2 linked regions of the Homo sapiens genome follow. The gene in region 2 interacts genetically with the main gene of each other region. Each region holds a gene or a part of one and is shown on either strand. Other genes may lie near its edges.

The links. Genes that interact genetically often act in the same process or in processes that back each other up.
Region 1: changes in GBF1 (region 2) and RAB3GAP2 together harm fitness more than expected from each alone (negative genetic interaction), as found in Homo sapiens cells (one study listed by BioGRID).

What each region holds. Positions count from the first base shown.
Region 1 is NC_000001.11:220,153,854-220,157,630, reverse strand, and holds part of RAB3GAP2 (rab3 GTPase-activating protein non-catalytic subunit), read left to right. Parts: intron 1-142; coding exon 143-361; intron 362-3,573; coding exon 3,574-3,663; intron 3,664-3,777. UniProt on the Homo sapiens protein: Regulatory subunit of the Rab3 GTPase-activating (Rab3GAP) complex composed of RAB3GAP1 and RAB3GAP2, which has GTPase-activating protein (GAP) activity towards various Rab3 subfamily members (RAB3A, RAB3B, RAB3C and RAB3D), RAB5A and RAB43, and guanine nucleotide exchange factor (GEF) activity towards RAB18.
Region 2 is NC_000010.11:102,374,508-102,378,131, forward strand, and holds part of GBF1 (Golgi-specific brefeldin A-resistance guanine nucleotide exchange factor 1), read left to right. Parts: intron 1-851; coding exon 852-1,077; intron 1,078-1,764; coding exon 1,765-1,925; intron 1,926-2,052; coding exon 2,053-2,293; intron 2,294-2,427; coding exon 2,428-2,633; intron 2,634-3,624. UniProt on the Homo sapiens protein: Guanine-nucleotide exchange factor (GEF) for members of the Arf family of small GTPases involved in trafficking in the early secretory pathway; its GEF activity initiates the coating of nascent vesicles via the localized generation of activated ARFs through replacement of GDP with GTP.

The DNA.
Region 1 (3,777 bases), on a different chromosome or scaffold from region 2:
ATTAGACTTTGTGTTTTTTTATTACAATTTGGGACAGTGTGCAATATGAATTTGCACTTTGCTGCTAATAAACTCATTGGGATATTTGTAAGCTATTATTTTTCCATTACTGAACACAGTCCTCCATTCTCAAAACCCTTAGGCAGATGTTAGCAGGGATGAAATACAGGTGCCTGTGCTGGATACTGAGGATGCGTGGCTCTCCGTGGAAGGACCAATCTCCATAGTGGAACTGGCCCTTGAACAGAAGCACATCCACTACCCACTGGTGGAGCACCACTCCATCCTGTGCTCCATCTTGTATGCAGTCATGAGGTTTTCTCTGAAGACCGTGAAGCCACTTTCACTTTTTGACAGTAAGGTAAGTACCTCACAGGATTTCAGAGCTATTTTGGAGTTGCAGGCTTAGCAGACACATGGATTTTCATATTTAATAGAAGCTGTCCAGTACTTTTGTGACTGGTATAATTTGGTGTGAGGTTCCAACTCCCTCATTCCCTGCTTGATTCCGTTCTTTTTATTTACCTTCTGTACTGCTCCCCTTGGAGTTTTGCCCTCTCAGCTGTCTGCTCTTCTCATTCTCCATATTATTCCTGGACAGACTCATTTTCTCCCTCTTATATATCTCTAGGCCTGACCAATCCCTAGAGTTTGAGGCATTCATTTCTTTTGAACTTCTCTCTTTGAGTGTCTTATAGGACTTCAGACACCTCATATCTAAAATATATCTGCAAACCAATACCCACATCCTGCCCCTAACCTAAATTTGCTGTTCCTTCTGAATTCCCTGACTTGGTTATTTTATTAACGATGTCATCATTTTTGCCCTGGCAAAAACTAGAAACTTTGAAGTTATCTCACCAATTCCTTACTTCAAGCCAATTTTCTTCATTGTAAATTCATTCTTGTAAATTCTGCCATAGATCATGCCTGTCCGTTTCTCTCCATGACTATAACCCTAGTTCAGGCATAATCATCTTTCCCTCGGCTATTACAACAGCCCTTTCTTAATCACGCTGCCTCCAGTTTCTCTCTCTCCAGTCCCATGCTGCAAGAGCTGTCTTCCTAAGAGACAGGTTTAATTGTATTAGTTCTATACCTAAGATTTTTTTTGGCTCCTCTGCAGGATCAAGTCCAAATTTGTGAGTAGAATATGTTTTTACATATTCTATTGTAACCTTCACAGTTTAGCTGCAGTGGATAGTAAAATCCTTTCCTTCCCCACGCAGGTGTCAAATTTTGAGAGACAGGACAAACTGTTGGAGACAAAAACGTCAACATTATTACTTAGCTTTTTACTGATAGAAGCTGGGTTAGAGAACACAGCTTAGGCTTGTGGGAAAGTGGGTTTATTATTTCACCCTTAAATGAGAGACTCCCGGACAGTCATGGTGGCTCACACCTGTAATCCCAGCACTTTGGGAAGACAAGGTGGGCAGATCACTTGAGGTCAGGAGTTTGAGACCAGCCTGGCCAACATGGTGAAACCCTGTCACTAGTAAAAACACAAAAACTAGCCAGGCATGGTGGTGTGTGCCTGTACTCCCAGCTACTTGGGAGGCTGAGGCAGGATAATCGCTTGAACCTGGGAGGCAGAGGTTGCAGTGAGCCAAGATCACACCACTGCACTTCAGCCTGGGCCACAGAGTGAGACTCTGTCTCAAAAAAAAAAAAAAGTATAGATTTTGAATGAGTTAGTATATCTTTGAGAATATAAGCGATAAGAGTACTTAAAAGTTAAAAAAGAGAAAGAAATACCAAAATAAAGTGCCTAGCTCAGTATTCCCATCAGAAAAGGCCTTTGTGAAACCAGAACACATCCAGAATTGGATTAGCACAATAATGTTTAGTTTCAACCCATGTCATGCCAAGACTACCTGAGACAGCTGGGTGACACTCATCTGCAGAGAGCTAGTATGGTTGAGTGGCTAGTGAAAACAATCCCGGTGCTACCATTTGCTAACTAGAATTATTTAGATTTTCTTACTCTCAGTTTTCTCATTCAGAAAGTAGCAGTGCCAGCCTCATGGTTGTTGTAAGGGTTCCTTGTATTCAACATGAAGTACTTAGCAGCATCTGGAATGTAGTAAATAATAAGTGGTGCTATTATAGATGCTATAGCTAGGACCACCAGGTGGGAACTATCGAGTAACAGATTGTGAGTGTATGCTAAATCTTTAAATACTTCTCTCAGTGATGTCCAAAATGTCATGGGTTGCCCTGTAAGTCCGGTTTTTCTTATCACTAAAGGATGAGTAGCTTTAATCTACTTGGCAGTCACAACAGATGACCTAGAATCACAGATGATTAGGTATGGAAGGCACATTGGAAGATACCTAGGATGACCTGCTTGCAGAAGAAGAAACGGTAACCCAAGATTGTGGGTCATTTACCCAAGGCAACCTGGATGGAAGTGGTGAGCCTTGGACTAGACCCAGGTCTTTCAACTTAAAGGCCAATGTTCTTTGCTCTGTATTACATTTCCTTCCAAGGAACTTCTAAAATCCTGTTTCCTGATATTCTGTTTTTACTCTTTAGACACACATCTGTTCTTTTAAATAAGGTGTTTTTAAACAATTCAACAAGTGTTTTTAAAAGGATTCAGAGGCTGGGCGCGGTGGCTCATGCCTGTAATCCCAGCACTTTGGGAGGCTGAGGCGGGCAGATCACCTGAGGTCAGGAGTTTGAGACCTGCCTGGCCAATATGGTGAAAACCCCGTCTCTACTAAAAATACAAAAAAATTAGCCTTGGCGTGGTAGTACACGCCTGTAGTCCCAGCTACTTGGGAGGCTGAGGTGGGAGAATCGCTTGAACCAGGAAGGTGGAGGCTGCAGTGAGCTGAGATCACACCACTGTACTCCAGCCTAGGCAACAGAGTGAGACTCTGTCTCAAAAAAAAAAAAAAAAAGGATTCAGGGTACATATATGTATTACTTAGCTATTACTGCGGAGTAAATCATCCCAAAACTTGGCTGAAAATAACAAATATTTATTATCTCACAGTTGTTGTGGGTCAGTAATCTGTGTTCTCCTTATCTAGGTGCCTCTGGCTTAGTCTCTCATGAGGCTGTAGTTAAGGTGCTGCATCTGAAAGCTCAACTGGGATGGGGACAGGGTGATTCACTTCTAAGCACAATTGTTGGCAAGATTCAGTTATGCCACATGTGCCTCTCCATACAGCAGCTCACAACACGGAACCTGGCTTCCTGCAGAACAAGTGAGAGTGAATATGAGTGCCTCAAGGCAGAAGAAGCAGTCTTTTGGAACGTGGTCTTGGAAGTAACATGTATCACCTCTACCTGCTTCTGTTGCTAGAAGCAAGTCATCAGCCTCCATGCAAGGAGAGGAGACTATAGGAAACACGAATACCAGGAGGAGGGGATCACTGGGTTTCATCTTAAAGGCTGTCTACTATATACTAGATAATTGTTATAAAAATTATTCTAAAATCTTACTGTTCAAGGAGAAATAAAAATCAACCATAAGTTATTATTAAGTTTTAAACAAATCTTTCTCCCTCTCCCCCCTTAATAATCCACACTCATCAGTTTTCTTGCTCTCTTTCTTTTTAGGGAAAAAATGCATTTTTCAAAGACCTAACTTCAATTCAGTTATTACCTAGTGGGGAAATGGATCCAAATTTTATTTCTGTACGACAACAGGTAAATTATAGCTATTGGATTTTGTTTTTGTTTCTTGGAAAAAAAAACATAAGGGAAAAATCTAGCTGGCTTTTGAAAAGAATGACTACTTTCTATCGCAAGGACAGAAAACCA
Region 2 (3,624 bases):
CCAGGAGTTTGAGGCTGCTGTGAGCTATGATCATACCACTGCACTCCAGCCTGGGTGACAGAGCAAAACCTGTCTCTAAAAAAAGAAAAAGGCAACATGAGGGATACTGTTGTGGTGGAACTGTTCAGTATGTTGTTTTGTGGTGGATACCCAAACCTACACAGGTAATAAAATTGTATAGAAATTAATACACACAAAAATGCAAGTAAAACAGGAAATCTGAATAAGATCAGATAGTATCTTGATTATGATATTATACTATAGTTTTGCATAATGTTACCATTGGGATAAACTGGGCAAAGTGTATAAGGGACCTTTTTGTATTATTTCTTTACAACTGCATATGAGCCTATAATTTTCTCAATAAAAATTTGTATTTGAGGCTGGGTGCAGTGGCTCATGCCTATAATCCCAGCACTTCAGGAGGCTGAGACGGGAAGATCGCTTGAGCCTGGGAGTTCAAGACCAGCCTGGGCAACATAGCGAGACCCCATCTTTCCAAAAAAGAAAAAAAAAATTAGCCAGGTGTGGTCACATGCACCTGTAGTCCCAGCTACTCCAGAGACTGAGGCAGGAGGATCACTTGAGCCCAGGAGTTTCAGGTTGCAGTGAGCTGTGATTGTGCTACTGTGCTCCAGCCTGGGAGACAGACCAAGACCCTGTCTCAAATAATATAATTAATATATTTCTATTTGAAAAAAAAAAAAAAGACCAGAGCAGTATCCTAAATTGGGTCCTAGCCAAACTGTCTTCACTGGCCTAAGGAGACTGGTGGGAAAGAAAACTAGACAGGAAGCTGTGTGCCCACACAGCTCCCCGCTTCCCCGCTCCCTGCCCTAACCCCACTCCAGGTGCTGCTCTCCCTGCGCATTTTGCTACTGATGAAGCCCAGTGTGCTATCCCGAGTCAGCCACCAGGTTGCGTATGGGCTCCATGAACTCCTGAAGACCAATGCAGCCAACATCCACTCAGGTGATGACTGGGCCACACTCTTCACACTGCTGGAGTGCATCGGCTCAGGTGTGAAGCCTCCAGCTGCTCTGCAGGCCACAGCCAGGGCAGATGCACCTGATGCCGGTAAGCCCTTTCCCAGGGAGACTCAGGCTGGCAGATAAACAGTTACACCCCAGGAGTTGGGACAGGAAAACAAAACACAGGTTACTGTGTTCAGCAGATTAAACAGCCCTGGCTCCTGCCATCACTTCCAGAGCTTCCAGTGCCCGCTGGCTAGTACCCATAAGTTAAATAGCATGAGGGCAAATAAGCAATGCAGACGGCTGTGAAGCCAGGCTTCCTACTGTCCTGAGGACTGATTTGTCCTGAGGACTGTTTCCCAGTTTCTGTTTCTGAGCTGTCCCGAGGACTGTTTTCCCAGAATTCTGGGAAAATAGAATTCTGTGAGCAGACTTTATATCACTAAATCGATACATCACTAAATCCCAGAAACTGGGAAAACAGTCCTCAGGACAGTGGAAAGCCTGGCTTCATAGCCTTCTGCATTGCTTATTTGTCCTTGCCACCACTCCCTAGAGTGGTGCTACAGCTGCCACTAGATGCCATCAGGAACCCAGATTAGCCTGCCACCTTATTTGGTCAACAGAGAAACTGTTCCGGCCATCCTTTGGCCCTCTGGTGACAGAAATTAAACTATGCCAGAGAGAGGGGAGGCCAGGCCTCAGCATCTTTTTTCTGAGAGCCTGATTTATCCCTCATCCCAGTGCCCCATCCCCACCCTGACTCTGCCCTTCTCCCTGCCTACCATAGGGGCCCAGTCAGATAGTGAGCTCCCATCCTACCATCAGAATGACGTGAGCCTGGATCGAGGGTACACTTCCGACTCAGAGGTCTACACTGACCATGGCAGGCCGGGCAAGATACACCGATCAGCCACAGATGCCGATGTGGTCAACAGTGGTTGGTTAGTGGTGAGTGACAATATGGGCAGCAATTGAGTCTCTCCTGCTTGACCTGTGGGAAGAATTCCTGGTCCTCTGCAAGGACATTCACACAGGGGCCAAGCCTGTGTCCCCAGCTCCTCTGTGTACTTTACAGGTTGGGAAGGATGACGTTGATAACTCCAAGCCAGGGCCCAGCCGCCCAGGCCCTTCACCCCTGATCAATCAATACAGCCTAACAGTGGGACTGGATTTGGGGCCACACGACACTAAGTCTCTGCTTAAGTGTGTGGAATCGCTGTCCTTCATTGTGCGTGATGCTGCCCACATCACACCTGACAACTTTGAGCTCTGCGTCAAGACTCTCCGGATCTTTGTGGAGGCCAGTCTGAATGGCGGTGGGTCAGCTGATGAGGGGGCAGCTGGGGAGTAGCCATGCAATTATGCAGGGGAGAGGCTGAGAGGGGAGAAAAGGCAGGGTATCTATGCCTATATAGACACAGAAATGTGACCTGAGTCTGGCTCTGCTCAGGATGCAAGTCCCAGGAGAAACGTGGCAAGAGTCACAAATATGACAGCAAAGGGAACCGCTTCAAGAAGAAATCCAAAGAGGGATCAATGCTTCGCCGGCCTCGAACCTCCAGCCAACATGCCTCTCGGGGCGGGCAGAGTGATGATGATGAGGACGAAGGCGTGCCTGCCAGCTACCATACGGTGTCTTTACAGGTCAGTCAGGACGTAAGTATGGCACCCTTTACTTCCTCTCCTCCCCTGCACCTGATACTGGGAGCCTGGGGCGGCCAGGGAAAGCCAGGGCTGAGGGGAAGGGCCCATGTGTGCCAGCCCAGGCCCTGGACCACCATCTTCACAATATTCCCTTACCCAAAACCTTACCTGTAAGTCTTTATTTGCTTAAATTTATTTATTTATTTATTTTTATTTTTATTTATTTATTTATTTATTTATTTTTTGAGATGTAGTCTCTCTGTCACCCAGGCTGGAGTGCAGTGGCGTGATCTCGGCTCACTGCAACCTCCACCTCCCGGGTTCAAGCGATTCTCCTGCCTCAGCCTTCCAAGTAGCTAGGACTACAGGCGCGTGCCACCATGCCTGGCTAATTTTTTGTATTTTTAGTAGAAACGGGGTTTCACCATGTTGGCCAGGATGGCCTTGATCTCCTGACCTCGTGATCCGCCTGCCTCGGCCTCTCAAAGTGCTAGGATTACAGGCATGAGCCACCACACCTGGCCTTTAAATTTATTTTTAAACTAAGATTTACTTATTTTTTGAGTAGGTTCAAAATATACAAAAGGGTAAACTGATAAAACTAAGTTTCCAATCCATTCCTGTCCCCAGCTTCTGAGTTCCCCTCACTAGAGGCAGCCACTGTCACCAGTTTCTTGTCTATCCTTCCAGAGTTACCCTGTGTCTATTCAAAGGCATATAAAATTAATTATGTGAGCAGAGTTTATATCACTAAATTGATGGAGAACCAATTGCCTTAAATAGAATAACCATACAAAAATGACAAAAGTGGCTGGGCTTGGTGGCTCCTGCCTGTAATCCCAGCACTTTGGGAGGCCGAGGCGGGTGGATCATGAGGTCAGGAGATGGAGACCACCCTGGCTAACACGGTGAAACCCCGTCTCTACTAAAAATAGAAAAAATAGCTGTGCATGGTGGCAGGCGCCTGTAGTCCCAGCTACTCGGGAGGCTGAGACAGGAGAAT